Regions from separate parts of the Homo sapiens genome. Here all the other regions are linked to region 1. The links come from fine-mapping of genetic effects on plasma protein levels. A gene starts in region 1. Each other region holds a variant in brackets. All regions are shown on one strand. Distances are between the middles of the regions.

Region 1 (5,541 bases):
TTTTAAATCTTACCTCTTTGCAAATCTCATCTTATAAGAAGAATCCAAGACAACTGATTGGACCATGTGTACTACTTGCTGGGTCACTGCATTTGGAGATTAGGCCCATGGGTGTAGCTTGGTAACATTTTTCTTGCTGAGGGCTGGAGTGGAAATGGACATATCAGCTTTCTGTTTTCTCATGTGTTCATGGACAACCTCATCTAGCCAAGCCCTTGTACTCCTTATTTGGCTAGCCCAAAGAAAGAAAAAGAGGACTCTTTTGATCCTAGCACAAATTTACTTGGTCAAATCCAGTTTTCCAAAGACCCAGAAATAGAAATTTGAAGTCATAAACTCAACTTATAAGAAAATGGTATTTTATTTGCCATTAATCATTATATCTTGTGAAAAGCCCCTTCAAGAATCTTATAAGTGATAATATCCCAGATATATCATCAAAACTTCATCAGTACTTCAGAGTAATAATCACTTAGAAATACTACATGTTGTCTTCCCCAAATATGTTTTACTTCCTTTCACATTTTCAGTTTTTAATGTTTTACTTCCTTTCACATTTTCAGTTTTTGGTTGAACAAGCTTCTTAATAGATTATTTTATAGGATTTTCCACACTTCCTACTCAACAAAATATTGACTCAACTAAGAAAACCACCTCAATGATTTGGTCCACAAGAATCAAGAATGTATTACCTCTCCAAAATCTGTCTTATTCATTCCAAACTATGACTTGTGGTTTTGTATTTAACCTAGGATTTTTCAAGAATTTTCCTGTAATACTCAATGAAAAATAACTTCTATTTTTAAATTAATAAGATGGATAATGCTGCAAATTATATCAGTGTTTTAAAGATGTATGGGGCTTATTATCCTACTAAATGTTCTGAGATTTTAAAATTCATTGTTTTCCACATTTCTTTACCAACAGACATTTTCCTCATTATAAGACCTATTTAGATAATGTCAAACAAGCATTCTAAAAAATATAATATGGGAAATGTTGGTACAACATATCAAATAGTATAATTTTAGTTCTAACAATGTTAAGAAGTTATTTCCCTCCTTCATGCAACCTGGTGTCAAGTTAATTTAGAAGTAAAAGATGAAAATAAGAGGCCATTGCCTTTTCAACTGAGGTCATAATGAGTCTGTAATGTATTTTGTGAGCTTCATTATATTGCTGCCTGATCTATAAAAATTAAAGTTTCCTATATTTCTCTTTATCACAAAAAAGAACTAAAGAAATATTAACAATCTTTATAAAAATAAGAAAATATTTTAGGAATAATTACAAAAAGCAAAATTATGGAACAATGGAAAAATATTACTTAAACAAAAGAAAAACTGAAAATATAAGGGATTTCTCTCCTTCTTAACTTGTTTCCTTGACTTGATATGACTCTCCTTTTATGTTCGATACAATTTAAAGTAAACTTCTTTGCTTTCTGGCCCATAATTATGCCTTTATTCAAGTATATATTAGCTTAAACATAAAATGCCATATTTTTAAAATTACAATCTAGCTACAGTTACAATTATTCCTTTTCTGAATTCAGTTTATAGATTCTACCAAATGCTAAAGAAGATATAAAATATTCTCCAGTCACACATCTAGCAAATAGATTCATGGATTCTACATTAAATAAAAATAAATTATTTTTCATCAACATCTTATAATACATTCATCGGATCCAATACAAGAGAAGTAAGTCCACACTTGAGTTCTAGGTCATAAAAATTAATGAAAATATGAAGCATTCTGATATGGTGTTAAGTGGTTTTACTTCACTAAATTACTTCTAGTTAGCAAATATTAACACTGTAGGTAAATTGAATGTTTTAAATTAATCTTATTTTTGTTTAATTTCAAAGCAAAATAAATAAAATAGATAACAGTTTGAAATTTTTCATCTTATAACTTGTAAATAGATACTGGAAGGTTTTATTTTTATTTCTAAAAGGTTCTAACACATGTGTGAATTCCATTAATCCTAATAAGTAACTCAAAGTCATTGGGTCATTCTATACAATAAAACAGAAACAAGCTGAGAGATTAATACAATTTTCACATGCTGCATTATCTATAGAGTTAGAAATAAGTGAGTAAAAGTGAGTGTACATTTTTGCAAGAAGAATAAACCATGTTAAAGCATAAATTTGTAATTTACTTGGTACTTCATATTATAAGCCCCTGTTAAGCTTAAGTGTGATGGTATTCAGTTTACAAAGAATTAGTATTATGAATAATTCAGATAAACCAGAAGCACCATTCACTTACCCAAGAAAATAAACACTATCATGCTGGACAACTCACGGCAGTTCACCTGGAAAAAAAGGCAGATGCGTTTCTTCTGACAACTTTCTTAAGAGTAACTGTCCAGAATAAGGCTTCAGCCTCTGTGTTTGCTTCCTAAAGGCATTACCAATTCAAGTCAGCTTCCTATATCATCATTTCCTCCCCAGTGTTTCCTAAGTTGTGAACTGTTCTAATTATATTCAAATTCGATTATTCTCCTGAGGGTGCTGGTCTTGAATATTAGGATATTATGCCTCTAAGAAAGCCCATGAGCCAAATACTAAGAGAAATGATACATAATCTGCACGTTCATGAAAAAGGTTTATTTTCCTTAACTAAAATACAACACTACGTAAAAGCCTCCCAAATATGACCCAAAATTTTCAAAGACACTTGAGCATACTCAGTCTCCACTTGTTTAATTAGCCTCATTAAGGCAATTTCATGTCATTTGAGGATATAGAAAAGCTAAAAACGCATAATAGCCCTGGAAAATGTATGCAAAATCGAAGTTCTACTAGAATTAGCCTGATATAACTCAAACATACTGGGAAGCTGCTTCCCAAACAAAGAATGTTGTATTACATGTGCCACAAACCCCAGTATGCTTAAAAATTATGCCACTTCAGCTACAGTATCTGATACCTTCCAAGTACAGCTACAGTGTAAAAAACATACTCTTCTCAGTGATGCAGAAATTCTATGTTCCACTGGAAAGATAATCATCTACATTTGTGTGCATCACTTGACAACTATTTTTTTTCCTAGTTTCAATGAAGGGACTTATTTATCTTATGCCTTGGTTTGGCTACGCCCTTCCTCATGTAAACCTACAGCACATCATCTTTCTTGGGGTGTCATGAGACTTCTATTTCTAAATCACCTGGAGGCCTTTCTAGAATGAATGCTTAAAAAATAAAATGCTGCTTTGGCAAGAAATTAAGAAGAGATAGGGATGGGAGAGAAGTATTTGTGCAGTTACACCATTGAGTTTTTGATTGCATATTGTTCATGTTTATTTTATACCAGTAGAGAAGTTATACTATATTTTGTTTTCAGCAGGCATAATGAAAAAACACAGACTCTAGAGTCCAACAAACAAAAATTATAACACTGCTTTTCTCTATAGATCTAGATGAGTGACTTAGCATTGGAAGTTATTCACTCCTTTGTAAAATGTGTCAATTGTATTAATTCTTGCTGTAATATAAGGTATGTATATGAGGGGCTTATATCACAAAAAAATTGATTATATTACATTCACTGACTTAATTATTACATAATAGAAGGATTATAATATCATAAAATTAATCAATCTTTTCTTCTTTTCAAGGGATTGAGTCACTAAACTTTCCTAATGACTTCTACCAAGACAAGCTTAGATATAAGCCAACTTAAAAGGACTTAAACTAGGACAGAGTTGGTTACTACCATAGTTGAAGAGTCCGTGGGAAGAATTAATTTCAGGTGTGTTTTAAACTGTTTTCTCTGGGTCTAAGTTGTTTGTTTCCTCCTGTCTCTTACCTGCATTCTTCTCTACCAGTTCTATTCCCAGAAAGGCTATTTCCTTCTGGTGGGAAGATGGCTGTGAAGCCCTTGGCAAACATCCTTCTCTCTTAGAAAGCAGGGTAGAAAGTGTCATTCTTTTACTATTAAAGTTGCAGAATTAAGTCACATCAGTTCTAGATGTGTCAAGTGCCAATCAATTTTACAAAAGGAACTTACCCCATGTCCAGTATCATAGATACAGGTTGTCAGTGTAGTTGGCCCTTTTCAAAGCACAGAATCTGATGGTGCAGAAGGTGTGCATCACGAAGGAAAATTATGGTATTAGAAGAAGCAGCTGAAGGGATCTTGGGGCAGCAAAAACCACATGCTTAGTAATGTATCTAAGTGCTGAGTTTAAGAAGAGCAACCACAAGGAAAATAAACTTATGAAACAAAGGAAGAGAATAACATAATTTTCTGTTCAAGGAAGGCGATATAGTTATGACTTTCTAGAGTGCAGTGATCCACAGAACCTGAATATAAGACCCTGTGAATGGTGCTAATCTTTGCCAGACAAGTACAGCTGCTTCGGTCTATAACTTATAGGTATAGAAAGCACCTGTGGTCATATAGCTGTTTATCCAACACAAAATAATATCAGCTGTGTTACCACTGAATGCCTGTTCATTGAGCCATCAGTCCTCTTTGTGTATAGACTCCTTCTCAGGATAATATTTTCATGGCAAAAAAAAATTTTAAAGATCATAAAGGAAATTAAGTATGTTAAAATATACTTGTCAAAATATGTTTTAAATTTGTGATAAAGTAATACATATGCTTCCTCATTGCAGAAGGAAATATCAAGATCTAAGTGAGTCTAAAAATATTGTTGTTTCAGTGTAGTGATTATCACAGATCCTAATTTGAAAGAACTTCCACTAATAAAATGTTATATAAAAATATCTGTAACTTCTATTAGTGACAAAGATAGCACAGGAAGTACTGAATTTCAATGAGTTTAGTAAAAAGATAACACAATTTTACCCCAAGCAAATTATAGAACCTCAAATTCATAAACCCAAATTTAATGTCTACGAAAATAATACTCTCGATTATTTAAATGAAAGCTGCTATTGAATCAGAACATTGTAGAAATAGAATTATCAATTTTGATAGTTTCTAATTATAATGTGTGCCTAATTTTAAAATGTATTCTACATTTCAAGTAAAATGTTGTAATATATAAATGAAACAGAAGAAAGTACAGCTGCTCCGGTGGGAATTTTCATGAGTAGTCCTCAGCTCTACTTATTGGGCTTTGCCAGCACATTCACAGCTGCTACTGAAGCATCCCAAAGGCTCTGAAATTCCCATTCAAAATTCCCTAAATTTATGTAATTGCTTTTTGATAAATTTTGTTTTAGCTAACGTATCATTCTCATGACAGTTAAATGCACTAGACCTCACACCTTGGCAAAAGACATGTAATATTTACTAAAAGACTTTTGTATCAAAGACTCTACAAAAACAAAAATGAGGGACAGACACTAGTTGCATGAATTGGATAAACTAGAATGCAAATTAAGCTACATATAAAAGCGAAAAAAGAAAAATTGTTAAATAAAACTCTATGATAAATCAGTGAAAAAAACTTCATATTCAAGGGCACTTCTTTTTGGAACATAAAGTTGTTTAAAGCTTTTGTTCAGTGACATTCGACTTCCTCCAATCACCTTTGCATTACCACTATATTTGTCT
Region 2 (5,541 bases), 480 kb before region 1:
TCTAGCAAAACACTTTTTTTATTTTAAAATAAGCATTGGTTCATTGACAGAAGTTCATTATTCTGCATTGTAAGAAAATGCAATTCTGTGCCGTGTTATTACCTATAGATGCAGGATTCACTTTCTGTACTCCCCCTTTTCTTCCAAAGAAAGATGTTTAAGGGAAAGAACACATAGAAATAGCGATATGTCTTATAGAATATTTCAGGTTTCTATGAAGGACTTTAAAGTCACCACAGAAAATAATAATATAGTGCCATAAGAGCATAGACTTGAAATTCCCAAATAGGGAAATTTCTATATTTCTTGGAGTCTCAGTTTGCAAATCTGAAAAAATAAAAAACAGATGAAAAAGTATTTCAGATCAAGAAAAATAATTTCAGATGATGTGGGAAGGGCTAATGCATATCCCAATGCAAAGATCATAGTTGATAATAAATACATTCATCAATATATTTTCATATAACTTCATATGAGCATCTATGTTAGTTTACAGAACTATATACATAATGGCAAAAAATTGTTTTTTATTATAATAACAGTAGGTACAGTTTTCTGACACCTACCTTTATGTAAAGATAAAGTAAGTAAAATGTTCTAGGTGTCTTTATTTAATAAATAATTAGTTTTATTACATAATTTAATATATGAAAAATAAATCGGTAGGTTTTGAAGTGTAATAATAAAATAAATGCCACCCAATTTAATAGCAATATCATTGAATCTTTCTGTGAATAATAGCTGAAAACACAAGTTTTAGATAAATAGTCAAACTCTTTAAAATACATTTGAGAAGTATGGGGAAAGGGTAGTGTGGGATGAGAGAGCTCTTATTTATGAATTTATCTTACAGAAACATTGCAGATATAGACAGATGTAGACGGATTCATGTAAAAGTGTTTATCGCTGTATTATTGCTTACAATTCACAAATTGAACATAATTAAACAAGAAAAAAGTTAAGGTATAATTTTTGGAAAAATAGCACAGAGAAAACACATATTACCTTTTTTTTTTTTTTTGAGACGGTGTCTCGCTCTTTCATCCAGGCTGGAGTGCAGTGGCGCAATCTCTGCTCACTGCAAGCTCCGTCTCCCTGGTTCACGCTGTTCTCCTGCCTCAGCCTCCCTAGTAGCTGGGACTACAGGCGCCTGCCACCACGCCTGGCTAATTTTTTGTATTTTTAGTAGAGACGGGGTTTCACCGTTAGCCAGGATGGTTTCAGTCTCCTGACCTCGTGATCCGCCCGCCTCGGCCCCCAAAAGTGCTGGGATTACAGGTGTGAGCCACCGCGCCCGGCCAAATTACATTTTTGAAAACTATTTACTAACACTGAAAAATGCTCAAATAATAATGTTAATTGACCCAAACCAAGAAACATTATTATATACATTATTATACTATTTTAAATAAATTTATATATAAAACAGATTGAAGGAACCCATCAAATATTCATTGCAGGCTGTGGGTAATTTACATTTTAATTCTTCAACACTTTCTGTGTTTTTAAAATTTTTATGATGAACATTATTGGTATAAACAGCAATGTGAATAATTATAGTTGAGAGAAAAAAGGTAATGAAATGATTTTATGCTACACACATCTTTACAAAATAGCATTCCCAACTTCTGCCAGGTATAGAGAGTAAAAAATCAAAACAAAACAAAACAAAAAACACTAGGATTTAAAAATCAGTTGCTCTCATTTTTTCTTAAGCCATGGAAGGTATTTTTTTCTCATAGGAAATGAAGATAAATAGTATCTTTTTTATTTTTCGAAAAAATTTACCACTGCTTTGGAACTTTGACTTTAATTCTCTGAGAATTCTCTGAGAAGAGTAAATATTTTTTGGAAAATAGTTACCACAACTTTGGAACTTTGACTTTAATTCTCTGAGACAAGTATTGCATTAAAAATACTTTATTTACATATCACATGATCACAGTTAAAATGGAATTTCAATTTGAAAAGTAATTTTAAAATCCTATTAATTGTTTTAACTATTGATTATTTGTGGCTTCATATACTTCTTAAAGAACTAAAGTGGAAGTAGAAAAAGGAACTAGTACCTCTGGCTATTTTTAAAGCAGAGTCACCTCTCAAAACTTCTGTGTCAAAGTTGTGGGTTTTATCTACTTCGTATTTTCAGTTAAACTCAGAAACAATTGAAAAGTCAGGGCAGACTGTACTCTTTAATGTAATTTATTTGACAATGCATATATGTTTTCACATATGTAAAGTTTCCTTTCCCTAAGATACTGCCTAGGACTGGCTGGGTAAGGGAGATCTGTACAGTAATTTGGACTGATGTTTTATGGATATGTTTTATATTCAAGACACAGTCTGACCTATTAACCATCTAATCTATGAATTATTTGACAGTGTTATGCAATCAAATTTAAAATATGGTAGATCCATTATGTCACCTCTTTTCTTATTTATTTATCTTAGTGAGACTTATAGCTCTTAAAATTATATATTTTATTCCTACCATTTCTCCCACCTTCCCAATTTATCCCTACTCATATTTAAATGTGTGTAATTTAAAGGAGTGTTCTGATACTTATCCAAATCTATATTTTACTTGGTAAAAAGTTAACACACTTTGCATCATTTCACTTATTTAATCTTTTCATATAAGGCTGACAGCCCCAAATTCTATATAGAAGGCATTGCTCTATAGTCACACCTCATATATCTGGCATTATTGGGAAAGGAGGTTTCCACATGATTGAATTTTCCAGATAATTCAGCTGAGCTTGGAGTGCTTTTGTTGAGCGTCTACCATGTGGCAAGCACAGAGGACATAAGGCCGAGTAAATAGGGCCTCAGAAGCTCATAGCCTGGAGGCCAGGGACTGTGGTGGGGCTGCCACACACAGACTTTAATAACTATAATACAATGTGCTAAGAACGATGATGTAAATATGCACTAAGTGTTGTGGAAATAGAAATGAAGAGAAAGTTAATTTTTTACTTGGAAGG[G/A]TAAGGGACCTTAGGGAAAGCCTCTGAGAGGAGTTCACTATTGAGCTGAACTTTTCAAGAAGAGTAGGAAGTTTCCATAGGCAAAACAACAAATGGGGAAAGAATAGGGAGAGAGAGAGAGAAAGAGAGAGAGAGGGAGAAAGAGAGAGGGAAGGAGGGAGAGAGAGAGAGACAGAGAGAGAGAGGGCAGAGGTGTATGCCAGAAGAAATGTTCCTAAGCACTAAAATGTTTAAGTGTATAAAAAAGTTCAAGCGTATAATGAATTAAATTAATACAATAAAATGATCAATGCCAGTGTTACTACTAATAAGAATAGCATCCAGCACTTACACATTTAATGGACACTCACCATGTGTCTGGCGCTGTGCTAAGTGCTTTACTTGAATTAATTTTTTCACAAATATATATATTTATGTATTCCCTAAAGAAAATGTGCTATGTAGAATCAACCTTTTCCTAATGCTCTGCTATGAATATAAATTTCTGTACTCCATTGTGAAAACATTTTAAGCTAGCCTGCTCGATGTCATTAGCCACCTTCAGTACTTGGATATATATAGTTAAGCTGTCATCATTCCAGTTCACAGTCAGCTTCATATTTACATCATCTCCCCCTGCCTCCTTCTTCTCTAAGATTTGTGATTCTTCTGCGGACATACTTCAGAAGGTACTCTGACATTTTCCACTCAGGAAGATTTCCTGGGCTCTTGAGAGCAGGGTGCCAGAACAGGACACTCAGATGGGAGATTATGTTTCTAAAGTGTCTAGAACGGTACACAAGCATAGCTTGCATATCTTCAGTGTGTGGGGATCATGCTCTATTTTAGAGGTTCTTACCTGGGGTGATTTTGGTCCCTAGGAGACATTTAGCAATGTATGGAAACACTTTATTTTGTCATCCACAATTGATAGGGGGCAGGTATGTGTGTGTATTGTTACTAGCATTTAGTGCGTAGATATGCTGGAGTAGTAATGTGGGTAGGAATGCTGCTAAACCTTCTAAAATGGACAGGACAGCTCCTCTGCCTCACAGAGTGCTTTGATCCAAAATGTCCTTGGTACCAAGGTTGAGAAATCTTGCTCTATTTGAAGATTTAAGATATAAACCTAAAGTGGAAATAGTTTGTGCCATAAGCTAATATGTCAGTGAATTTTGCTTTGACCATTTAATATTTTGGATCATAAGACTCATAAGATGAAAGAGCTCTTAGGAGTTTGTACTGGGTACATTGCTCATTCACTGCATGAAAAATGGTTGAACTGTCTGTGTAATAGCCTCATGTCCTTTTTGCTTGTTGAATGAGGGGACCTCCTGGGTGTATACCTGGTAGCACATGTTTAAATTTCTCTGCAGGGGAAAAATGTGAGATGATGTAATGCCAGGAAACCTACTAAATATTAAAAATGTCTTGGCAATTAAAAAAATTCTGCTCAGTGAAAAGTGATTAAATTTTCTTAGTGAGATTCCAACTTTTTTTCATTTCTGCCATGCTTTTCATTCAATTGCATCTAATATTACTATTTTACCAGTTTTCATCTGTACCTTTTAAATGCAGCATGGAATTAGATATTCTGAAAATTAATGGTTAGTAAGATTTATAGAATTGTATAATCCCACATTTATTTTGGGGAAAAAAAGCGATTTACCATTTGAAAACATTGATCAATTTGAATTGAAACCCAATTCAAATTCTAGCCCATATAAGCTAAAAGCTGCTGATGAGGGAAACTTTGAACCTTATAAACTCTAGAATTTACCATTATTAATTTGTAGTCTCTTGAATAATATGATGGTATTTATGACAAATACCCAGAGAGAGATGTATGCTTTCTCCTTGGGTGGCCATCATTATATTTTTATTGGACTTGATAAGCTATTCAAGGAAAAAAGGAGATGGAAGAAAGTGAAATAGTTATAATAATAGAAGCTTTGGGAAAAGTGGAGATGTCGTTGTGGACTACAAGTTTTGTACTTTATGAAAATAAAGTAGTGTGGCATCCTTTCCTCTAAAATTTGTCTGTGTAGCTTCTAGATAATTTCTTAAAGCTTTTCTGGACCAGGTTTAAGTGCTTCATGATTAGATAGTAGAGTGGCTATCCTATTGGTTTCTCCTTTTTGTTTCTCTTTGAATATAAAAAATATGTGGCTATCCTCTTGGTTAAGTATCCTTTTTCTCTCTCTTTCTCTCTCCATATATATATGTATATAATATATGCATGCATACACACATATACATATATTCATGTAATTGAAACCACAACCACAACCAGGGTTAATATTCCTTTTCTTATCTCTTCTTCTTGATTATATAAATGATTTTACTTATTTTTTATAAGTTTTCAACCCATTTTTTTCTCCAGTAGAACTGAGAGGTGGTTTTATTATGGATTATGTATCAAAAATATTCCTAAAGTTAAAGAAGATGAATAAATTTCTATTTCCAAAGTTTCTAAGTACAGGTTGTTAAATAACTTTTACATTTGTAATTGCATAAATCACTTCTGACTATAATGAGTTGGATGCAAGAATAATGCATACAACTCATATACATTTAC
Region 3 (5,541 bases), 120 kb before region 1:
CACACCAGAAACCTGAGTCTGAAAGTAGTGACTGTGCTTGAAAAGGAGAGAAATGGAACATCTTTCCAAGAGTAATCCTTTAATGCCGAAAGTCTCTCATATAGGAAAATTAGCTAAGTGGCCTGTCTATTATTTTCAAACACACAATGATATGATTTCAATGGTTAAGTAAAAATGTCTTTCCACTCTTTATAATAAAGAACTAATAATAAAAAGAAATAATGTTTTTCTTCCTAGTTTTTTTCAGAGCTTGTTTACATCATATTAAAATTATTTCTGATGAAATAAGGTAGTAGATGTGAAGAAAACATACATAGTGAAATAAAATTTTCTTAGAAGATTATGACTAGAAATTTCCAAAGCAGCTCGTTTAGAAAAACGAGCATATAATTTAGTATAAGGATAACAGTATCATTGAGAAAATTTTTATTTCTGAGAAGAAAATTACACACTTAATAAAGTAGAGAATTTAGGGGAAATTGTATTAAAATATTTTTAAAGTACTGTGATTTTTTTAAAAAGAGAGACTTTAAAGGGAATTGATGCCTTAATATTCTCCTTTATAGGTCATATATCCTTGAATAAACTCTTTAAAATTGCTTAAACTTTAAATCCACATATTGCATTTAGAACTGAGTCAATTAATTTGTGAATAGAGCTTACTGAAAGAGAATCTGTGTCTAGAGCTAATCTGGTACTAGAAAATCAGAAAGACCATTTTACAAGTCCTCTTTTACTCAGATTATGTCTGCCTTCGCCAGAGTATGTTTGCAGATTAGTCCTGTAGTCTTAGATCCTAGAAAGATCCATTATTGCAAAATATGAATAAATTCAGTCTTGGATTTATTTACATTCATTTTCACTTATTTACAGTCATTTTACTACAGGTTAAAATTTCCAAAAACTTTTATATTTTACTTTTTCTACTTAGGTAGGTAATTAACATTCATTGTGGAGGCATTGGAAAACAGAATTAAAGTAAAATAATTTATCTGTAATCATAGCACCCATGATCATTACCATTAGCACTTTATATATCTCCCAAATCCTTTTTGCTTTTAGAAAATTGTGTCATGACTCTATGTACTGTTATAACATCTTCTAACCTGTTTTTCCCTTAATCATGCAGTTAAATAGCATCATCATTTTGTTTTCTAGCTACACCATAAAGCTATTCTCCATTGTGAGACATTTGGATGGTTCTCAAATTTTCATTCTTAAAAAACATACTGTGATGAGTCTTTATATAGATATATGTGTGTGTGTTATATATCCTATACAAAACCAAGATACAATATACGTCACCCATATGTATTTATTTTTATCTAGTTATTTTCTAGGATTTGTTAAATATTTCTAGAAAGGACTCTTTGATAAGGAACTGTTGGGACAAAGAATATTGACGAGTGAAGACTTATTACTAAATAATTGCTCACCCAAAGAATTCCAATTAACTGTATATTCCTACTCATTTAGGTTTGACTGTTTACCTTCAGTTCCAATAACACTCCCTTTGTCATTGATATTTATTGAACTATAATGTATATATGGAAATGTGTACAAATTATAAGCTCAATGAATTTTCACAAACTGATACTATCAATGTAATCAACTCAGTTCAAGAAATTTATTACCAGCACCCTCGAAGCTCTCCTTGTGTCTATTTATATTCACACTTCAAAGATAATTATTAACCTCTCACTGCTTTGATTAGTGTGGTCTATTTTAGGACTTTATCTAAATGAAATGACGTATGTCTTCTTTTGAGCCTGACTTTTTTCAAGCAACCTTGTGTTTGTGAAATTAGTCCATGTTGTTGAAGTTGTAGAGTGTTTTATATATTTGAGCTCTATATTATACTATTTCAATGCCAGTATTCTTTTTTAATTGTTGTCAGTCTGAAAGTATAAAATACAGTGTTACAGTTTTCACGCACAATCTTTGATTTAATGTGAGGTTGAACTTTTTTTTTTTTGGCTTCACTGGTTATTTATATTTGCTCTAGTGTGACATTGGTCATTTATTGTTCCTCTGTGGTAATACTGGTTTCTCTATTGTAAATAAATCTTTCACTCTTGCCCAAGCAATAGGTTACATTGGCCTTTAGTTACAAAATAGAAGAATGACTGTTGTTTCCTCACTCTTTCCCAAAAGGCCAATTAAGACTAAAAACTGTTGTTTTGACAAGGTAACAAGTTTCCCTTCTGGGACTCCTGTAGTTGCAGGGTCTTGATCCTCAGTAGCGAGAAAAGGAACATGATACGTGGATTCCAGATCCCAGAAGTGAATCATCCACATTTCGGGCTGAAGCCATTTCTCATCTATCCGGCTGATTCCTCTGACTTTTGCTACTTTATACTTTTTTGGGTATTTTTTCAAAACCTGCTTTTCTTGAAATGCTGACCAGTCCTGGTTAACTGTTTGCTGCCCCAGGGTACAAAGTTTCTCTAAAGTTAAAGCTGACCCATACCCCGGATTGATAAAGGGTGAGATAGATAAGAAACTCTACTTTAGGGATTTGAGAATCACTGGATAAGAGGAGATTCTAGGACAGAGATGATTCTGGTTTGATTAATTTAGGGAGAAGCTTAGACATTAGTCATTTGAAAAGGGCTCCAGGTGATTCCAATGGGTTGACAGGATTGAGAATAATGGAAATTTCTGACTCCTAAACTGATACATTCAGATCCACTGAATAGATCAGTTTTAACCTATAAGTAAAGAAATGCCCCTGCCTGTTTATATCATGGCAGACTCCCAGAGACGGGTCAACATCTTAATATTTGTCTTTTCCAAGTACTGAACAATGCCACAAATTTCACTTCTAAAGTATAATTCCCCATTCTTACTGCTTTGATTCATAGTAAATGAAAATTGTCCTAAAGGTACCAGTATTTTACTGCTGAATATGACTAAGCTTGTCAGATCATTATGTGAGAAATGTTGTGGTAATGGAAAGAAAGCAATAGAGACCTTCTCATGTTGGAGAGTATAAGAAGAAGAAATGGAGGTAGAGAAACAGTCTATCCTTTGTAAACTTTCCTTAGGTCCCAAAGAATTCTAAGGCTTTTTAAGGACTGTAGTTCTTCCTTTGTGAGATTTTGTAAGTATCCTTTTCAGTCTTGCAAAGGAAACTCTAGGCAAGTGGTTGAAAACCCAC[A/C]GTCCCTTTGGCATGCCTAAAGGACACAGGAGCCAAGTGAGAGAGCTCCCAATGGCCAAATGTTGAACAGTTTGAGCAACAAAAGACATAAATTGGTATTACGTTATAACCCAAAGTGCAAAATAATTACCTATAATTAGCTATGAGTCCTCCCTAATATAAATACATGTTAGAATAAGTAAATAAATGAGAATGGACAAATTTTCCATACAGAAGAATTCAAAATTTTTGTGTAGATACTCCCCATTCTTTAAGTGTGAGCTACGCATAGTGACATTTTTCCAAAACGTACAATACAGAAAGACTGTGGGGAGACTTTATAGTGCAGATACCTGGCAGACACCACCTCAGCCAGACAAGAAAAGTTAATACCAGCCGTCATAATTTATATTGATATTATATATCCTTGATATAATGCTTTCAGGATGACACTTTACCTCTGTGGTCTTCTCCCAAAACTCTATAACTCCAGTCTTAACAGGAGAAAAACTTAGACAAACCCAAGTTGAAGGACAATGTACAAAATACATGACGAGCACTTTGGGAGGCTGAGGAGGGGGGATCACTTGAGGTTAGGAGTTTGAGGCCAGCCTGGCCAACATAGTGAAACCCTGTCTCTACTAAAAACACAAAAATTAGCCAGGTGTGATTGTGCGCACCTATAATCCCAGCTACTCAGGAGGCTGAGGCAAGAGAATCGCTTGAACCCAGGAAGCAGAGGTTGCAGTGGGCCGAGATAACACCACTGCACTCCAGCCTGGCTAACCGAGCAAGACTCCATCTCAAAAAAACAAAATAAAACAAAACAAAAACATGACTTATACTACTCAAAATAGTTCGGAGAAACTGTCACAGCCCATAGGAGGCTAAGGATACCTGACTACTAATGTGGTATACTGGTGAGCTCCCAGAACAGATAAAAGACACCAGTTTAAAAATGTCTTTAGAAATGTCATTTTAAAAGTCTAAAGAAATCTAAATATTGCATGGATTTTAATAAAAACTTGCCAACATGTGTTCTTTAGTTATGACAAATATACCATAATAAGATCTGACAAAGAAGCCAAACTTCAGTCAGATTTCTAAAACTTCTCCTAAGCCCACCTCTTCATTTCCTTGTAAAATCCAGTTTTAGCAATTCCTACTAAATTAGCTTAACAAGAACCCCTATAGTCAATATCCAAATGCCCGATCTGATTAGGTCTCTCCTCCTCTACCAACCCGAAGGTCATGTCTGATCACCCTATCCTGTCTTCTGCAAAAATCCTGGTAGGTCAGTTTAGCCAGAATTCCTTTCACTCCTGATGTTTTCTCCTAGTAATTTTTAATCCACTGACCCCCACCCCACTCCTTGGCTATAAATTCTCACTTGCCCATGCTGTATTTGGATTTCAGCACAGTCTCTCTCTCCTGCATTGCATGTGGTCCCTGTACCTACTGCAATGTTCCTAAATAAATTCATCCTTGCTGTGCTTTAATAAGTATCATTGAATAATGTTTTCTGTAACAGATGTTAACCATAGAGAAAACTGAGTGTGCAATATATAGGAATTCTGTTTTATCTTCACAAATTTTGTGAAAATCAAAAACTATTTTAAAATTAAAAGTTTATCAAAAAAGTAAAGAAGGGAAGGAAGGCAGGAAGGAAGGGAGAAAGAGATTCCCACATGAGCAGCAGCTGTCAGAATCTTGTCAAAATTTAAAATTCTCAAGTCGCAGCCCAGACCTTCTGAGTCAAAAACTCAGGGAATGTAGCAGTAACCTGTGATTGAGAAACATGATATAGTTGGTTGGAAAGAGCTCTGCTTCCAGGTGCTTCTCATTTTAAATGTGATCATGTTACTTTTTCTTTAATGCCCAAGAGTGAAGAATCGGATTAGGCTTTACTGTATCTTCTGATTACCGAATTGTTACCTTTCACAGAGGAATGGCATGCCTGCCTCTGTTCTTCTCATATTATTAACATTTGAACTCCGGGGCCCTTCTCAGACCCTGTTGTACTCATGTCTTCCATAACTTCTCCGGTACACAGAGAGCTCTTCCACCTCTGATATCCCCAAGTGCATAATCATGTACCAAATCTCATGTTTCCAGAGGCTATAAATCAAAGCAGAGTGTAGATTCCCTGGAGACAGAAGATTTCACCTACCAGATAGTGACCTTGGGTAAATTGTTTATTCCCTCTGTACCTGAGTTTTCTTTCTGAGAACTGGGGATGATACAAGAGTATCTACTTCATGGATTTTGGGGAGAATTGTGAATTAATACACATAATTTGTTAATAACAGCATCCAGCACTTAGTGAGGAACCAATAATGTAAGCTGGCGTTACTGCTGGTGGCAAGTGTTTTGTCTCTTAAATATTTCTTCCTTCTCCCAAA
Region 4 (5,541 bases), 77 kb before region 1:
TGTGTCAGACTTAAACTACATAATGTATGTAAAGCATGTAGAATAATCTTATATAGTTTAGTTGCTTTTACTATTTTCTGTAATCCCACTGATTAAAATAATTATATTGTAATGAGTATGTGATGTTTGTAGATATGTGTTCCACCTTTGAATTTATGACTACTCCTTTTCTTATGTTTACATTTCCTTTTTAATACCTTCTGCTACTCTTAAGAGGCATAGTATCTTCAATACTCACTAAATTAGAATTTTCAGGCAGAAGAGTAAAAATTACATTTGTTTCCAAGTATTGAAAGAATGTGGCCAGGCGTGGTGGCTCAAGCTTGTAATCCTAGGACTTTGGGAGGCCGAGGTGGGTGGATCATGAGGTCAGGAGTTCGAGACCAGCCTGGCCAATATGGTGAAACCCCATCTCTACTAAAAATACAAAAATTAGCCAGGCGTGGTGGCGGGCACCTGTAAGTAATCCCAGCTACTCAGGAGGCTGAGGCAGGAGAATCGCTTGAACCCGGGAGGCGGAGGTTGCAGTGAGCCAAGATTGCACCACTGCACTCCAGCCTGGGCAACAGAGCAAGACTCCGTCTCAAAAAAAAAAAAAAAGAATGTAACACATGGAATTAAGCATTCACTAAGCATTTAATTATACTGACCATTATAAAAATATAATGACCTTCTGCAAAACCAGTCATGTAACTTCTGCAAAACCAGCAATGTAACTTACATTAGAAAAATCAAGTGAAATCTCAAAAATATTTTAATGTAATTTTGTTTGACTGTTTGCCACCCTAAATAAATATTTGAATCTGACAATATTGCCAAAATTTAATTTTAAACCACTGTGTTTTAAAGGCATGTTTCCTTCTTAGTAGAACCAAGATTATAAACAACTGTATTATGGAAACCCTTATTAAAGATACATTTATTGCAATTGACTTGTCTAAGGTTTTGGAAACACCAATTCTACTACCCTAAGTTTTGGGGTGCAATCAGTGTGGTCTGAATAGACATTGAAGCCTCAAAGAGGCACTTTGGGAACAACTTGAGAAACTCCAGTGCAGTAAATCATTGCAGCCCAGATGGTATTCATCTCAGAGTTCTGAGGGGGAACACGTTGTGAAAGAACAGAGCAAGCAGACAGGGATATGTAAAAATTGCACTGTTGGTTCATACAGGGTACATGCCAACCCGGCACTGCCTTTAAAGCGGTGGTGCCATCGTTTGACCATTAGTCACTCAGATTTGACTCCTGCATTTGTTGAGCTCACAATTTGAAAAATTTAGAATATTTTTATTCTAAAAAATAAAAAAATATTCTATTCACTCAAGTCATTTGTATTCATTTCACTGTACATGGCAATGAAAAAGGATGCATGTTTTAATAACCCCAAGATCTGTTTCTCAGGACTCTCACAGGGAATTCAAAAGTAGGAACAGACGCAAGCCTCAGCTTTGGAGTAACCACAAAGTCCCTGTTTTCCTACTGCCCTAAAGCCCTTTCCAGAGAGACCTTTCTGACTCACCTTGCAGAGTTCCAGCTTGTACAGCTCGGCTGACTCCCGGGTCCCAGGAACACCTGTGGGTTTTATGGAAAGGATTCTGTGAAGGAAAAGAGGCTGTGGGTAAATATGCAGAAGCAGCTAGGGGTACAAAAACTTATTAGGAAAGAGACTACTCTGGAGGGAATTTAATCAGTGGTCAAATTATTCTGCGGGGAGGTCTGTGATCTGTGCCACCTGGTGATCTGGCTATCCTATCCTACAGCATTTTTCCCCCTAGAAATCACAAGGGTAAATTTGCTTTCTCATCTGGGGTGAGAGAGATGTAAGGAAGATATTGGACATCTTGAAATTTAATTGTTCTAGCTTGATCCCACTTACCAGTGCCAAAATCATATTTTCCAGTTGACTATTAGGTGACTCCACATGGATATGTCACTGGTGTTAGGAAGTCAATTGATCTAAACTTGAAATATTTACCAGTGTCAGTCAGGGAACCAACAGGAAGCAGATGGGATACTCCAATTAGAATAAACTGCAAGTTATCTGAAATTGGATGACTCTTAAGAATGCTTGATTTAGGTACTCTTTATACAGGTGTAGGTAGTTGAAAAACCTCAAGGCATAGTCCAGTAACTCAGGAATGGCACTGACTGAGCTGTTAACACCACTAAGCCTGCAGGGAGAAGGCCTGGAAAGGTTTATTGCCATCCAGGAAAGATGTGTGTAGAAAAGGCCACACTGATAGAAACAATTGAAGGAAACAGCCAGCCTGTGGGGACATCTCAGCAAGGAGTCCAGGAGAATTTCTCCCCCATTTTCTACCATTTCTCACTATCGACAACCAAATGGAAGCCAGAGGACAAAGGGGACTATGTTGCATATATGTCAGCCTCCTAGGGGTGTATGAGAGGTGGAGGAAAATTGGAACAGACCCTAAAATAACTAGCATATTCCCCTTTCCCATTCCAAGTTCCACTTGTATGAGCCAGTTTTCTAATTGGCAACACGGTTTACCTAATGGCACAAATCAAAATATACTCAACACTCATTCTTACCATGATCCTTACAATCTCAACTCATACAAATATCTGACCCCAAGTTTCCATTGATTCTAAATTGTGAGATTTGTGAAGTGCCTTCCATTCTCTCACATCACTGCTAATTTTTCTCTTCACATCACTCTACCATCACTGCAGCCTGTTCACTTCTTTATGGCATCTATCACTTTCAAAAATTACCTTGTTTACTTTGTTTTTCAAATTTACTGGAAGACTGTGCTCAGGATTGTATCTCCAGTTCCTAGTACAGTGGCTGATACATAGTATATGCTTGATAAATAAGTATTGAATGAATAAATTAGTGCAGGCTTCCAATACTTATTAGCTAACTAATTTAGTTACACTTTAAAGCAGTCTCTTCAGCATCAGTTTTAGTCCTTTATAGTCCATTTCTATGTCTGCTAGCATAACTTTTTTTATTCAAAAATCTGCTTAAAATTATTTTGCAGCACTTTGTAGGATTCCAAATGAAGCAATTCTGTCACTGAACACTTATTTATTGAGCATACACTATGTGCTAAGGAATAGAAAACAAAGATGAGCCAACAGACTCAATCAGGGTGCTTACAATTTACTAAGCAAAAATAATAAACGAAGCTGCGGCAGTGAAGTGTAATAGTCTAAGATGGGGGA[T/G]CACCGGGTGCTGGGAAGCACTGAACAAGAATCTTTGAACTACAGGGAAGAAAATGTTAGGAAAGGCTTCCCAGAGGACTGAAGAGTAAAAGAAGACAACGAATATGGGGACCATGTCCTATGAGGCCCACACTCCACTTTTATAGGTGTCTCCTTAGCCTGGTATCTCAGTGTCTTAGTCCTGATGTTTACTAGCTGTATGTCCTACACTTTCTCAATTTGGACTCTCTGCTCTAGAGATAGGTGACTATTTAGTGTTCCCTAAATGCTTCATGCTGATTCCCCCTTCTGTGGTTTTGCCTACTTATTCCTGCTGTCCTAAGAGACAAGATTCTGTTTCCTAGGGAAGCCATCCATTTTACACTCTGTTCTCCCCTTCTCTGCTCAACACAAGCATGTTTCTAGAAGGAACTTGACTTCTTTTCTCAGTTTTCCAGAGAACAGTTTGCATTTTCCCAGACATTACCAAGCCTAAATTAAATGGCAGTGATTTGGAGAAGGAAATCCCTGCATTCTCTTCATGTTAATACTCTGCATTAGCCACTGGAATATATAGAACTCCTTGAGAAACATCTGTGACTCATCAATTTATTCTTCTCTGTTTTAAAAGATAAACGATGGCTTCTCAATTACTTTGAGTAAACATAGCCAAATGTTAACTCCAAATTTAATTTAATGTAGACAGTTTAATCTGAAGTGTAGTGAATAGCAATAGAAATGAGACCAAATGAGCAGAAAATATTTGAATTTTAATTGTAAATATGCCACGGTTAGTATGATATCCTCAGGTTATTGAATATTTGTGCCTCTGTGCCACTATAGATAATACAACCTCATGGTTATTATGAGTAATAGGTACTAGTGTAATTGCAGGCGGTTGAAAAGCAAATATGTATTAAAATTCTAACTAATGAACATATTTTCTACAATTTTCTAATCACAATTATACTCTGATGTCAAACCAGGCCAAAAGTCACAGTATAGGAATATTATAAAAAGTAACAATTATGGTGTTACTTTATTATTGCAGAAGTTCCTCATAATTAGCCTAGAAAGATTTAATTCACAAAAATCTATGATTATTGAAGCGCACATTGACTTTCTTTCAGCCAGTGTAGTTGTTTTACATTTTATGGGAATAAAATGAGATATCAAGGTCAAAAAGTAAAATTCAATAGTATTCAAATTACAAAATTCAAACATGTCACTTCCAATTTTTTAAGGCTTTCATTTAATCAAATATATATAGGAACTTAAAGTCAATGCTAATACGTTAATGACTGATTTCAAAATGGTCGAAAATATACCAATAACACAGACACTGGATATATATATTAACTTTTTTTGGCAAGTTAATGGGAACTTATGTAATTGATCAGAAAAACTGCTAACTATGTCATATTATGATGCAAATAATTAATATGATATGTGTTTATATTCATCATAAAGCAAATTATGCAAAATGTGACTTGGGATAACACTTTTTGCCTTCAAGGGAAACTTTATTTCTGTTCCAGTGTTGTAAAAGATACCACCATATATTTTTTCTTGAGTATTAAGAAAAAAATAACATCATCATGCCATATTATTATATGTAACAAAGCAATATTTTTAAGTCTATTTTAACATTTTCTTTCTCGATGACAGATGGAATAGGGTGTTGACCAGCTGTAGGATTTGCTTTAAAGAAAGTGATTGTTGTCTTGACGTGGTTGCTCACGCCTGTAATCCCAGCACTTTGGGAGGCCGAGGTGGGTGGATCACCTGAGGTCAGGAGTTTGAGACCACCCTGGCCAATTTGGCAAAACCCCATCTCTACTAAAAATACAAAAAAATTAGCTGGGCGTGGTGGCGGGTACCTGTAATCCCAGCTACTCGGGAAGGCTGAGGCAGGAAAATCACTTGAACCTTGGAGGCAGAGGTTGCAGTGAACCGAGATTGAGCCATTGTACTGCAGCCTGGGCAACAAGAGCAAAACTCCGCCACAAAAAAGAAAAGAAAAAGAAAAAGAAACAGAGAGGGGAGGGGAGGAGAGGAGAAGAGAGGAGAGGAGAGGAGAGAAGAAAAGAGGAAAGAAGAAAAGCAGAGAAAAGAGTGATTGTTATAGGTCCATGACTCCTAATGAATCAGAGTTCTCCAGGTATTTGGATCGATGAAGGATCTCTTGCTTTACTTGATATTCTGGAAGTTCTGTATAAAATAAAAGTAAAAGTTAACAACATGCCATTTTAAGGATTTCACAAATGTGCTTGTGTGTGTTTGCATTTTTGCTGGAGTCTGCACCTGGAGGAAAAAACTAATCAAGTTCCAGAATGTAAAGTCCCAATAGTAAAATATCATATTTTCTTTCT
Region 5 (5,541 bases), 900 kb before region 1:
CTGTACGGAATTAAGAAAAACTTTGGAAACTTGACTTTTTTTATTTTAGGAGAAATAAAATGTAATTATACTCTTAGCACTTGAAGGATGCTAAACATTGAGTTTGCTTTATGATATTTCTTGACTGATTTATCATTGAGAGACCGTACTATTAAAAAAGAGTAAAATGTTGACTGAGTTCTTTGAGATTGATACAAGATTCCCCCAGCCTTTCACAGAGTCATAGGACACTGGACTAGAAAAACCTAGTATGGAAATTGTTATGTTTCCATATATCTGGCTTAGTTGGGACTCCTATAGAAAAATGACTTTCAATTTTTTTTACAGGACCCACAGGAAGAAATAAATTTTACATTGTGACACATCTGTATTTATTCGAAATATGTATACCAAATATATCATAATATTTACCTTTTGTACATGCAATGTGCTCTGACATTTTCTGTTCCCTTCCATTCTATTAAACACTGTTGGTCATAGACCACTGAGTTGATTTCAAGATCAACCAATGGATCGTGATTTGCATTTTAAAAAACACTACCATAAAAATCCCTCCAGTTTTTTGTTGCTGCTGGTGGTGGTGGTGGAGGGGATGAATTTGTACTTATAGGAGATTCTTATTAGTTCTGTTTGTCAAATAAATTTCAGGTACACAGTCAGATTACGTTTTCTGGCCCCATGATACTCATGGCCAACGAGCTGAGTGGAAATTAACATATATTTCTGCACTGGAACATTTATTTTCAGTGTGAGAACCTCCAGAGCTCTTTACCCTTACCTTGGAAAATGACCATACTCCTCAGACTCAATCCTAAAATGAGGAATGTGGAGCAGAGCCACTAGACAGCTCATAGTGGACGTAGAGTATGAGCAAAAAATAAATGTTTGTTGTTATAAGGCACAACAATTTTTGGATATATTTGTTACTCAGCATAATCTAACCTCTTGTGGTTAGTGTACGATAATTCAATTATGTGTTTTGCTGGTGGAGCAGAGTCTCCTTTCGAGATATTAACTTTATCTAAAACATATGTAAGTTTAAAAATATGTTTATTATTTCTGATTTTAAAATAATGCATATTCTGTTGTTTTTGAGACAGGGTCTCTCTCTATTGGCCAGGCTAAAGTGCAGCAGTGCAATTCAAACTCCTGGGCTCAATGGTTCTGTCCTCTCAGGCTCCTGAGTATCCAGGACTACAGGCATGAGCCACCATGCTCAGCTAATTAAAAAAAATTTTTTTTTGTAGAGACAGGGTTTCTCTGTATTGCCCAGGCTGGGCTTGAACTCCTGATCTCAAGCAATTCTCCTGCCTCAGCCTTCTAAAGTGCTGAGATTCCAGGTGTGAGCCATCATACCCAGCCAAAATAATGCATATCCTTTATAGAAAAGTTGGAAAGCATCAAAAAATAAAAATTACATATCCATAATGCTATTATCTGGAAGTAACAATTTTTGACATTTCTATGAAAGAGATATAATATCACATAATTAGCTTACTATATAGTTTTGCATTTTTTTGCATTTGTTCTTTTATTGATATTTTTAAAATTGTCATTAAGTATTCTTGGAACATTTGAATTTTATGCCTCTGTAGTACTCCATCATATGGATGAACCAGCAATTACTTAGTTATTCTTGTACTTTAGTCATTTGTTTTATTCCATACAAGGAGTTTTAATGGACTAAAAATCTCACCCTTGACACTCAAAAGCAAACAGTAAGCCAGACCAGAATCCATGTCCACTCACTCTGCTTAGCGTCAGTTGCATCTCCCCATTACTCAAATCCTGGCACACAGGGGGTCTATATATTCACCTGTCAAGTAAGCATTTTCATCTGTCCATACTTTTTTAGAAAATTAAGCACAAATTTCATGTATGAACCATTTCATGTCCATACATGAAATTTGTGCTTAATTTTCTAAAAACTAAGATGCTTTATATTTCTTCTCCTCTACCCTCTAGCAGGAAAATTTGGTTTATATTTCCTGAATTCTTTCAGGGAAAGACATCACTATCTACAAGACGTTCAAGCCAGAGGCTGGGGTCATTCTCTTTCTCCTGTCCACTGCAATCAAACAGTCATAGGACCTGGCCCGTTTTAACTCCTGAATGCCTCTCAAATCACTTTCTGCTCTCACTGTCCTTCAGGCCCTTACTGCCTCTCATTTGACTGCTGCCATAAACTTTCCATCTTCCTGTACACCATTCTCCCTACTGCTGCCATTGTGAGCTTTCTAAAATGTGAACAAGAATATGTTT[C/A]TCTCTGCTAAAAATCCCTCCTGTAGTAAACTTTAAAGACAAAGTCCACTCCTCTTCACTTAATGCAAAAGACCATGTTCCTGCTCTGTTTCCTGAGTACCTGCCCCATCATTCATTTCCTTCACCCCTCACCCCTTTCCCACTCTCCATGGGCGGTTCACTTCATAAATACCTTTTCACTGAGCACATCTTGTTCTTTAGTGATTTTAAGCATTTTCAGGTACTATCTTCCTGTCTTCTTAAGGTCATCTAGCAAATCCCTGGTTTGCCTTTAATTCACAGATGAACTTTACTTCCTCTCAGAGAATGTACCCATTTCCTCTCAGCCAGCCAGGAACTAGGTATTCACTCCACCAAGCTCCCAGTGCCTAGCACATACCTCCATTAAGGTCTCTATTATTGTATTGTAGTTATATATTTGATATCTTTTCACAAAAACCCTATACTTGCTGAGGCTATCACTAGGCTTTCTCATCTGTGTATCCTCAGTGCTTTGTACATTGCCTGAATAATAGTAGATGACTGTGCATATTGTGGAATGAATGGATAAACAGACAAATAGTAGTGGGAAAATATGTATTAAATTTTATCTCTTGATGATTCTTTCTTTTACAATCTAAACAACCAAGCTTCATGTATTTTTCATATCAGAACCAACTGTCAAGACAGGATCTGAAGTTCATTTACTCTGAAGTGTAATAACTGATAAAAATTTATGTCTCCCAAGGGGGTTTTTATTGAACAAGGATGGAATGCTTAATCTAAAGAAAGGAACCTTACTTAGTAGAATTTCCCACAGGCTTAACAAGCGTATGGGATTTGTTTTAATTGGGGATTGGAGGTGGGACTTAGAGGTTTTCTCTTTACTCCAAATAGTCCATAGGCTTTGTCTAGATATGAGACCAGTTTTCTTGCTTGCTGGCTCACAGCATGAACTAGCATGTCATATTACACAGCACATTCATTTTTGTTTCTATTATACAGCATAGATCATATGAACTTCACATCTGGTAAACATTTGTACATTGAATGTGCAGCTGCCAAGAATTGTGGTTTCTTGGTAGCATCCCAGTGACGCTGAGTCAAGGTCACAAAACCAGCATTGCAGAGTTTTCATGATCTGGAACTGTATCCTGCTTTTACTTATTGAGAAAGTTGCTCTCTTAGTTCGTTTGAGGACCTGTCATGGCACCATTTTAAGTTTGGAAAATAACTTGGGCGATTCAAAGTCCATTATACTGTTTGTGGGCTCCCCCTATACGAGCCATCCCACAGAGATGGGAATCTTATCTACTTAAAAAAAATCCAAAGAAAGTATTTCTTAATTCTTCTCAGTGACCTGTTTTCAAAGTTTGATAGTCTCTTCGAAAGTTTCATTGTCATAACAACATAACTCTTCCCTAATTTAGTTTTATCACCTTGCACTGTTTTTTATGGAAGTGAGGAACATTGGATTTTCATATAAACTGCAGTGCTGAAGATACCAGTGCATTGCACCATAAAAGCAAACCAAACAACACCATCACACAAACAATTCAAGATAAATTAAGTTAGGAAAATGGGGTTTCACAGTGTGACTCAAATTAGGCTTGCCAGTTAGCTTTGGCCTCCAAATGGAAGTCTAACATTTTGGTGTGTGGTTTATATTTTCAACATCCTTAGTGAATTCTGTCTTGAAAAGCCAGATACCATTAATATAATGGAGGAACTGGTTTATTTTATATTGATATAATATATAAAGCTTTTAAAAATGTTTCATGATAGTTACCTTTTCCCTCTGGGATTATGAGGAAGAGGGACAAATATCTATCTCTTGAAAGTTACAGTAGAATCATTAGTAGATGTGTTCATATACATTAAATAACGAGGAACATTTTGTAAAAAGTTACTTTGCTCTTCTTTCTAGAAAGGAATGATATAACATTCCTATATTTCCAGGTGAAGAAAGCAAAGTGACTTTTTTTGGTATACACCTGACTGTAAAAGCTACCCTGTAGGTAATTCGGCTATGCCCTACACTTATTTTTCTCCCTGATGTTAAATGAATTAACAATTGGTAACATTCCTAAAATTAGATTTGAAAAGAAAAAGTCAAGATATTTGGATTCTTTAAACAATTCTATGTACTATTTGTACTCTTATTCTTGGGAAGAATATTTGAAATAAGGTGAGAAAAGGACATCATGAAATGCAGGCATAATACTCTTTGTAACTTCCAGAAACATGTACACCACAATGAAGACAGGATGCTCTGTGATTAATCTATTTAAACACTGTATGCTTCCAGGGATCTCCTACCCAGGAAACAAAGCCCACAGGAAGACCATCACATAGGAATGGTAAGACATCTCAGGCACTTGGGTGACTAGCTGTGTCTAATTTTACCTTCTGCCATTCTAGAATTACTCAAACTTAATTTCAAAATACTCTTTTTTGTTCCCGTAATTATTGTGTTTCTTGTCTTTTTAAAGTAATTAAATTTTAAAAAGACTAAAAAAATTAAAGGCCATGAATATGTTTAAAATTTGGAATCCTTTTGTTTTTATGCCAAAGTTCTCATCAGATTATTTTCTGATGTAGATTATTTTTCATTGAGTACCTGAAAATAGCACATCCTTTGGACAGGAACAAGCTGAAAATTTGCCCAAGTGGCAACCTGTAGGCAGCCAAATACCAGGTCTCTGCTGTCAAGTACATTTTTGTTGCCTTCATTCCACTAGCTACCATAGATTCTGTCTGGGCTAGAGTAGAGAACTTAGCTACTTAAGGCTTTCAAGTTTCCTTACTGAGGAGTGAGTAGTAGCCCACTCAAAGTGAAGCTCTAAAAGAGTTCAGAAATTTTGAGTCATTCTATCACTCAGCAGCAGGTGTTGGAATGAATGAAGACCAGTTGACCTAGTGGTTAGTTTCTTGATAGCTTGGGGGGTTTCAAAAAGATTTAAAGAAATGATTGTTGAGTACAGGGGCAGTTGTTTGCTTTAGTAGAAATCTTATTGTAACTTGCATAATGTCAAAGGAAAATGAAATGTTTTAAGGCTTTGTGGGGAAAAATTTAAAATTTGTGGCTTTGGAGGAGTCAGTGGTGTTTAAACTAATTTAGTGGTTAAAGTGATCATTTTTTAGAATTTGAGAAAAGGGCAATCTTTTCTGACTTTTTTTTCCTGGAGGGTCAGAATTTTGTTTTTCTTTCCCTGTTTATTACATTTTAGTTTTATGTTACAATTTACACTGCATGCATGGTATCTTGCTCAACAGCATTGCTGTTCTTTATCACCATGA
Region 6 (5,541 bases), 230 kb before region 1:
GGCAAAGGATGAGTGGGAGAAGGCATCATAAAGGTGGTAAGATGTAAGTTCATGGGGCCTCCAGGGCCATGGCAAAGACTTTGGATTTTTCTCTGAGGGAAATGGAAAGTTATAGAGGATATTGAACAGAGAAGTGATGTGATTTAGTTGATGTTTTCAAAGTATTAGGAAGGCTGCTTTCTGCCTTGCAGAGGAGGTGGCAAGAGTGGAAGTAGAGAGATTGCTTATAATGTTCTTGCAGTTATCCAAGTAAGAAATAATTATTTTAAAGATAGAACATGATCTGCTGATAGATCTGATATAGGGTATGAGAAGAAGAGAGGAATCAAAGATGAGTTCATGTGTATTTCCAAAGAACAGGAAGTCTGTGGGAGAACAGAATGTAGAGGAATGGATTAAGTATCAGTTTTAGAACAAACGCCTTAGACCTGGGCAAGGAGGACCCCTTCCCTGGCCATGGTGCCTAAAGGGGTCCTGTGTATTGGCATAGCTTCCTCTAAATGCCTAAGTCCCCCTCTACTGCTTGGATTGTTCTCAGCATATTTCATTGCCCTTATAATTTGAATGTCCCAAATATTATGGTTTCTGAAAATTCTGATACATTTTGATGTCAAGTTTTTTTCATTGAATTAACTATAGTGGCAATTAGAATCACTAATGTACCCCAAGAATGATGGCTAAATGAATAACTGGGTTGCTTAAAGGAATCGTGAAGTCTCTTTTGCTTGAGGGTGTAGGTCAATTCAAACCTTATCCTGTGATGTGAATGTCTAACTATTCATCTGCCAGCTCCATATTCTGCAAGTGGATCCACAATTTAAAAAATTTTAGATCTTTTTACACCCCAAAACTATGTTTTGAAGTTACAAAGAAACTCCCTGGGGTGAAAGAAGAAATTAAAGCCTAGCTTGTGAAGAAGATAGGACTTTTTTGATACTCTTGCCTCTAAGCATATGATGCCAATCAGAATTATTAATGTATTTAATTTGCTTTTTACATTAGTATTTTTTTCCATGAAAACATTTCTAACAAGTAACTAGCTGTGCCCCCTGTATTCACTTATGGCATTATTGAGCCAGGTTTTGAATACGAGCTCTCATTTATCCTCATGTTGAAGTGAGTGCCCCTCTGTTGCCTCTCAAAGGTTCAAACTGAGGTTGACATTGCCAAGTGGAACAGGATGGGTGGAGTTGATGTTGTCAGCACTGGAGGTGGATAAAAATGTTGGCAGGTTCCAAAATGGGATAATGTCTCCAAAGTGTTTTGAGCTCCTTGCTGAAAGAACTTGAATAATTTCCAGGTATTATTTTGATTGTGGCAAGAGCTGTGTAAGGTAATCTGCTCTACTATCAACAATGATTCCTTTCATTGCAAATTTTAAACAAGTAGTTATATTTTAAAATGATAAATGGAATAATTTAAGTTACCATTTTTGCAAAATATCAGAAAAAAATGTCCCATGTCTTCAAGTTAGCCTTACAAAAAGGGAAGCAACAAACATTGATGAAGTATTAACTCATCAATGTGCTAATGCTTTATATACACATTCTCATTTAATCCTTAAAACAGACTTATGGGCTAAATGCTATTATTATTCCCACTTTTAACAGAGGAGAATGAGGAAGACTACATTATTTTCTCATGTTTTCTCATCAGTACATGATAGAGCTAGATTGTTTGTCTCTAGAGTTTTTCATCACCAGTCTGGATGCCCTACTATACCATCATTTTTTTTTCTTTGGAGACGGAGTCTCCTTCTGTCACCCAGGCTGGAGTTTGGTGGCCTGATTTCGATTCACCACAACCTCCGCCTCCTGGGTTCAAGCAATTCTCCTGCCTCAACCTCCCGAGTAGCTGGGATTACAGGCATGCACCACCATGCCCTGCTAGTTACATACATACATACATACACACACACACACACACACACGTATATATGTAAATACATGTATATATATACATATATGTGTGTGTATGTGTGTGTGTGTGTGTGTGTGTGTATGTATATATATATATATAGAGAGAGAGAGAGAGAGAGATGGAGTTTTGCTCTTGTTGCCCAGGCTGGAGTGCAATGGCACGATCTCGGCTCACTGCAATCTTCTCCTCCCGGATTCAAGTGATTCTCCTGCCTAAGCCTCCTGAGTAGCTGGGATTACAGGCACGTGCCACAGTGACCAGCTAATTTTTTGTATTTTTAGTAGAAACGGGGTTGCACCATGTTAGCCAGGCTGGTCTTGAACTCTTGACCTCAGGTGATCCAGCCGCCTTGGCCTCCCAAATTGCTGGGATTACAGGTGTGAGCCACCACGCCCGGCATATACCATCATTTTTAAAACTTTTGTAAGATTTCCTTCAGTAGAGCTATTGGAAACACAGCTGCTAAATAAACTAATGCTTTATTTTAGGAATATTTTAACTAGGGTATCTCCTTCAAAATTAGTCTCTGTATCCAAATAGGCTTTCTTTGACCAAATTCTAGCACAGGGTCCTACACACATTAAATGTCCACTCAGTAGTAAGTGGATGAATAAATAAACAAAAAATAATTTTCTGTACCTATTATTTGTATAATGGTCATCACATATATACATACAGCACTATATGTGGCTTTACCACAACTCTTTTTAGCTATTGTAACCTCCATTTTTTATAGATGAGTAAATGAGGTACAGAGTGGTAATAGAATTTTTCACTATACTAGGGATGGAAAATATATTTTTTATTGCAGAATAGAGTCAATCATTGATAGTAGATACCTGAATTTAGATAATAGTTTCTACCTGGATAGCAGATACTGGAGTAGGTAGCTCTATTGAGAATGCCTAGAAGATGCACCTGTACTCATTGTGAAAAACTGCCATATTGAATTACTATTGTCTGTCCCGAGTTTGAAATGGAGGACTGGTAGCATTCATGTTTAGGATTTTAAATCTCTATGCTACATGTATATGCCCTACAGAGATAGATCACTACGGGGTTGTCTATTTGAGACTTTAGATTCTGTAATGAGTATTCAGCAATCATTTATCTTTTTTGTGTGTGTTTGTTTGTTTTTGGATCCCTGCATTTTTTTAAAATGCCCCTTAAATTACTTTTATAATTTATTAATTCATTTTAATTGAGTTTCCTTTCATATAGTTAGAACTTTGGTTAGTCTTGATACAGTGGATCAATGTGATGTTCTGCAGAATGTCCAGCTATTTCAGGTCCCTTTGAAATATATTATGACAGACAATAGGTGAATGAA[T/C]ATAGCACTGAGAGAATTCTATAAAATCTGCTGTTGTCTGTCCCAAGCAAATTGGAATTTTAATGCTGTTTTTTCTTTCAGGTACAGAAAAGAAAGCTTTCATCCATTGGAGGCTGCATACCATTTAAATAAGGCAGTGTTAATTTGCTTTTGCAAAAATACTGCAACTGGGACAGAAGCTACAATTGGGGTTTATTTATGGTAGCTTAGTGTCATCCTCCAAAATCATAACATCTTTCTGGTTTGGGTAGAGGCTGTACTGGTGATTAGAGGGGGTTGCTGATGAGGCCATCACCCCTGTATCTTTTACTTTCTTTAGATTCTTGAGGATGGTAATAATCTCTGCTGGCTCACCTAATATGCTTTCTTCTTCTCCTCCCCCTCCTTTCCCTTCCTCTTCTTTTTCTTTTTTTACTATTTCAGCTGAAGGAGAGGAGGGAGAGATTTCAGAAGCTTCTACTTGCCCTTCCTTGTTACAATAGCTCTTACATTACAAGTCAAGGAACTAAGATGCAGTAAGGCCTGTTCCTAATACTAAATATGTTATTTCCAATTATATACTCAGGGACTGAGAAATAACCACAGGGAATAAGGACCCAGGACTCCACTTATTATGCGGTCCTCCTATTTCTCATTTTAACAATGGGGATATAATGATACTTTGGGTCTCCAAGTGTCATTGTCAAATTGAACCTTGTATCCAAGAATCTGAAATTTTTGGTATTCTTCTTTACCCAGTGTAAATTTACTCAAATGAATGCCTATAGATCTCTTTGGGGAAAGATTATATGAATTACTTTATATAGTTCTCTTAGTATTACAAGGTCCTCATCATAAACATCTGGCTGCTGCTTCAGTCACTTGTGGTTTATTTTTTTTTTTTTGGTCTGAAAATTGGCTAAGATGTATAGACTAGGCAAGGGATCATGACTTTTACATTGAAGCAGCTAACCAAAGCTAATTGATGAGCTATAGCCTTCATTAATTTTTATTGTATAGGTCAGGATGGCTTAACCTTAACACTATGGATTTTGGATGTCTTCTTTGTTGTGGAGTCCTGTCTTGTGCATTGTAAGATTTTTACCCTACTAGATGCCAGTAGTGCCCAGCAATTTTGACAACCAAAATTTCTCCAGACATTGCCGGGTGTCCCTTGGGGTGCAAAATTGTCCTGAATGAGAACGAGTGAATATGTTAATAATTACACTGCTGCAGGTTGCCAGGGAGTAGCAATATCCCACCTACTTCGAAGAATATGAAATAACTGAAAATTAACCAGCAACTCATCTAGCTCCCAAATCCCATTTTGGAGACCACTTCCTCAGTTCACTCCTGGCACTAATTTTCTTAGGTCTGGTTCCCTGGGAACAGTCTCCTGGACAAGGATTTGTTTGCGGGACGTTATTGCCATTGGATTCAATAACTGTGGGGAAGTAAAGGATATAAAACTAGGTAGAAGAATAAGTTGAACTATGATGTACTCACAACAGAGGCTTCAGTGAGTCACACAGGAATCCCAGGAGCTGATATGGCCTTTCCAGTTAGGATGGGGGCATGACCTTGGATAAAGTGGCGCTGTAGCTGAGGGTGATTACAGAAAAGGGGCCCAGTGAAATGCCATCAGCTGCCAAAACTTTAGTTTCTGAGAATTTCTCCACCCTAGGAGTACCTGAGCAACATCTCACAACATCCGCTGTAGTCTATTAATCAGAAATAAAAATTTCCAAAGGTATAGATTTCACCTAACTTCACTAGGATATGGTAACATTTTTCTCAACCCCTTCTGCCACCTTTAGCACTCAATAATTCATCTCCAACAAATATAAAACACTGTTCACATATCAAGAAGTATAAGGGACCATAGATTGTTGTTTTCTGAGAATTTTTGTTGTGTGTCTGTAGTCACGCAAATGCTCATTTTTATTTTTGCCAATCAGAAAAGAAACATTACATAAAGCTGTATTTTGATGGAAGTTTCATTAATATCTGAAAATTTTTATTTGAAGTTTGAATGGATTTGGGTTGATGACTGTGTGGATGACTGAGTAGTCTTACTGTGCTTAATAGAGTGTATTATAAAGCTGAAAACTCATAGCACATCACTGATGTGATTTCCCAATTTGACATTGTTATATAATCAATATGGCATAACAAAAAAAAAGTAATGAAATTTGATTGCTTTTTATAAATAATAACAGCCTCAATTAAAATAACTATTTAGAATGATGAATTATGTCTTCTTAGCTAAATATTAAACCAAGTGTCCTCAGCTAACACACTGCTATGCCATC

Direction of the effects. Alleles are on the strand shown, and positions count from the first base shown. The strength of an association depends on the size of the effect and on how common the allele is.
In carriers of allele G in region 2, the plasma level of the protein whose gene starts at base 2,385 in region 1 tends to be lower than with A alone (moderate association).
In carriers of allele A in region 3, the plasma level of the protein whose gene starts at base 2,385 in region 1 tends to be higher than with C alone (moderate association).
As copies of T replace G in region 4, the plasma level of the protein whose gene starts at base 2,385 in region 1 goes up (strong association).
As copies of C replace A in region 5, the plasma level of the protein whose gene starts at base 2,385 in region 1 goes down (moderate association).
As copies of C replace T in region 6, the plasma level of the protein whose gene starts at base 2,385 in region 1 goes down (moderate association).

What was found. A credible set is the group of variants that fine-mapping cannot tell apart. PIP is the posterior inclusion probability: the model's chance that the variant is causal. The UK Biobank Pharma Proteomics Project read protein levels with antibody pairs (Olink). The fine-mapping took linkage between variants from a reference panel, not from the people measured, so its PIPs are less certain.
Region 2: its variant is the best candidate, but not a certain one, in a credible set for the plasma level of the GFRAL protein (UK Biobank, PIP 0.75).
Region 3: its variant is the best candidate, but not a certain one, in a credible set for the plasma level of the GFRAL protein (UK Biobank, PIP 0.90).
Region 4: its variant is the best candidate, but not a certain one, in a credible set for the plasma level of the GFRAL protein (UK Biobank, PIP 0.67).
Region 5: its variant is the best candidate, but not a certain one, in a credible set for the plasma level of the GFRAL protein (UK Biobank, PIP 0.71).
Region 6: its variant is the best candidate, but not a certain one, in a credible set for the plasma level of the GFRAL protein (UK Biobank, PIP 0.59).

Annotation. Positions count from the first base shown.
Region 1 is chr6:55,324,313-55,329,853 of GRCh38, reverse strand. GFRAL (GDNF family receptor alpha like) reads right to left here and starts at 2,385. Exons shown (of 9, transcript NM_207410.2): 1 at 2,278-2,385. The coding sequence starts at 2,299.
Region 2 is chr6:55,809,267-55,814,807 of GRCh38, reverse strand. The region is part of intron 2 of BMP5 (bone morphogenetic protein 5); the gene reads left to right. Among named protein-coding and RNA genes, the nearest start is that of BMP5, 64 kb to the left of the region's middle. The variant G/A (reference allele first, on the strand shown) is at 2,985.
Region 3 is chr6:55,440,112-55,445,652 of GRCh38, reverse strand. All of the region lies in intron 7 of HMGCLL1 (3-hydroxy-3-methylglutaryl-CoA lyase like 1), which reads left to right. Among named protein-coding and RNA genes, the nearest start is that of GFRAL, 120 kb to the right of the region's middle. The variant A/C (reference allele first, on the strand shown) is at 3,161.
Region 4 is chr6:55,401,629-55,407,169 of GRCh38, reverse strand. It overlaps GFRAL (GDNF family receptor alpha like), which reads right to left. Exons shown (of 9, transcript NM_207410.2): 9 at 4,677-5,380. The coding sequence ends at 5,317. Among named protein-coding and RNA genes, the nearest start is that of GFRAL, 77 kb to the right of the region's middle. The variant T/G (reference allele first, on the strand shown) is at 3,191.
Region 5 is chr6:56,224,920-56,230,460 of GRCh38, reverse strand. The region is part of intron 1 of COL21A1 (collagen type XXI alpha 1 chain); the gene reads left to right. Among named protein-coding and RNA genes, the nearest start is that of COL21A1, 20 kb to the left of the region's middle. The variant C/A (reference allele first, on the strand shown) is at 2,263.
Region 6 is chr6:55,549,638-55,555,178 of GRCh38, reverse strand. The region is part of intron 1 of HMGCLL1 (3-hydroxy-3-methylglutaryl-CoA lyase like 1); the gene reads left to right. Among named protein-coding and RNA genes, the nearest start is that of HMGCLL1, 27 kb to the left of the region's middle. The variant T/C (reference allele first, on the strand shown) is at 3,251.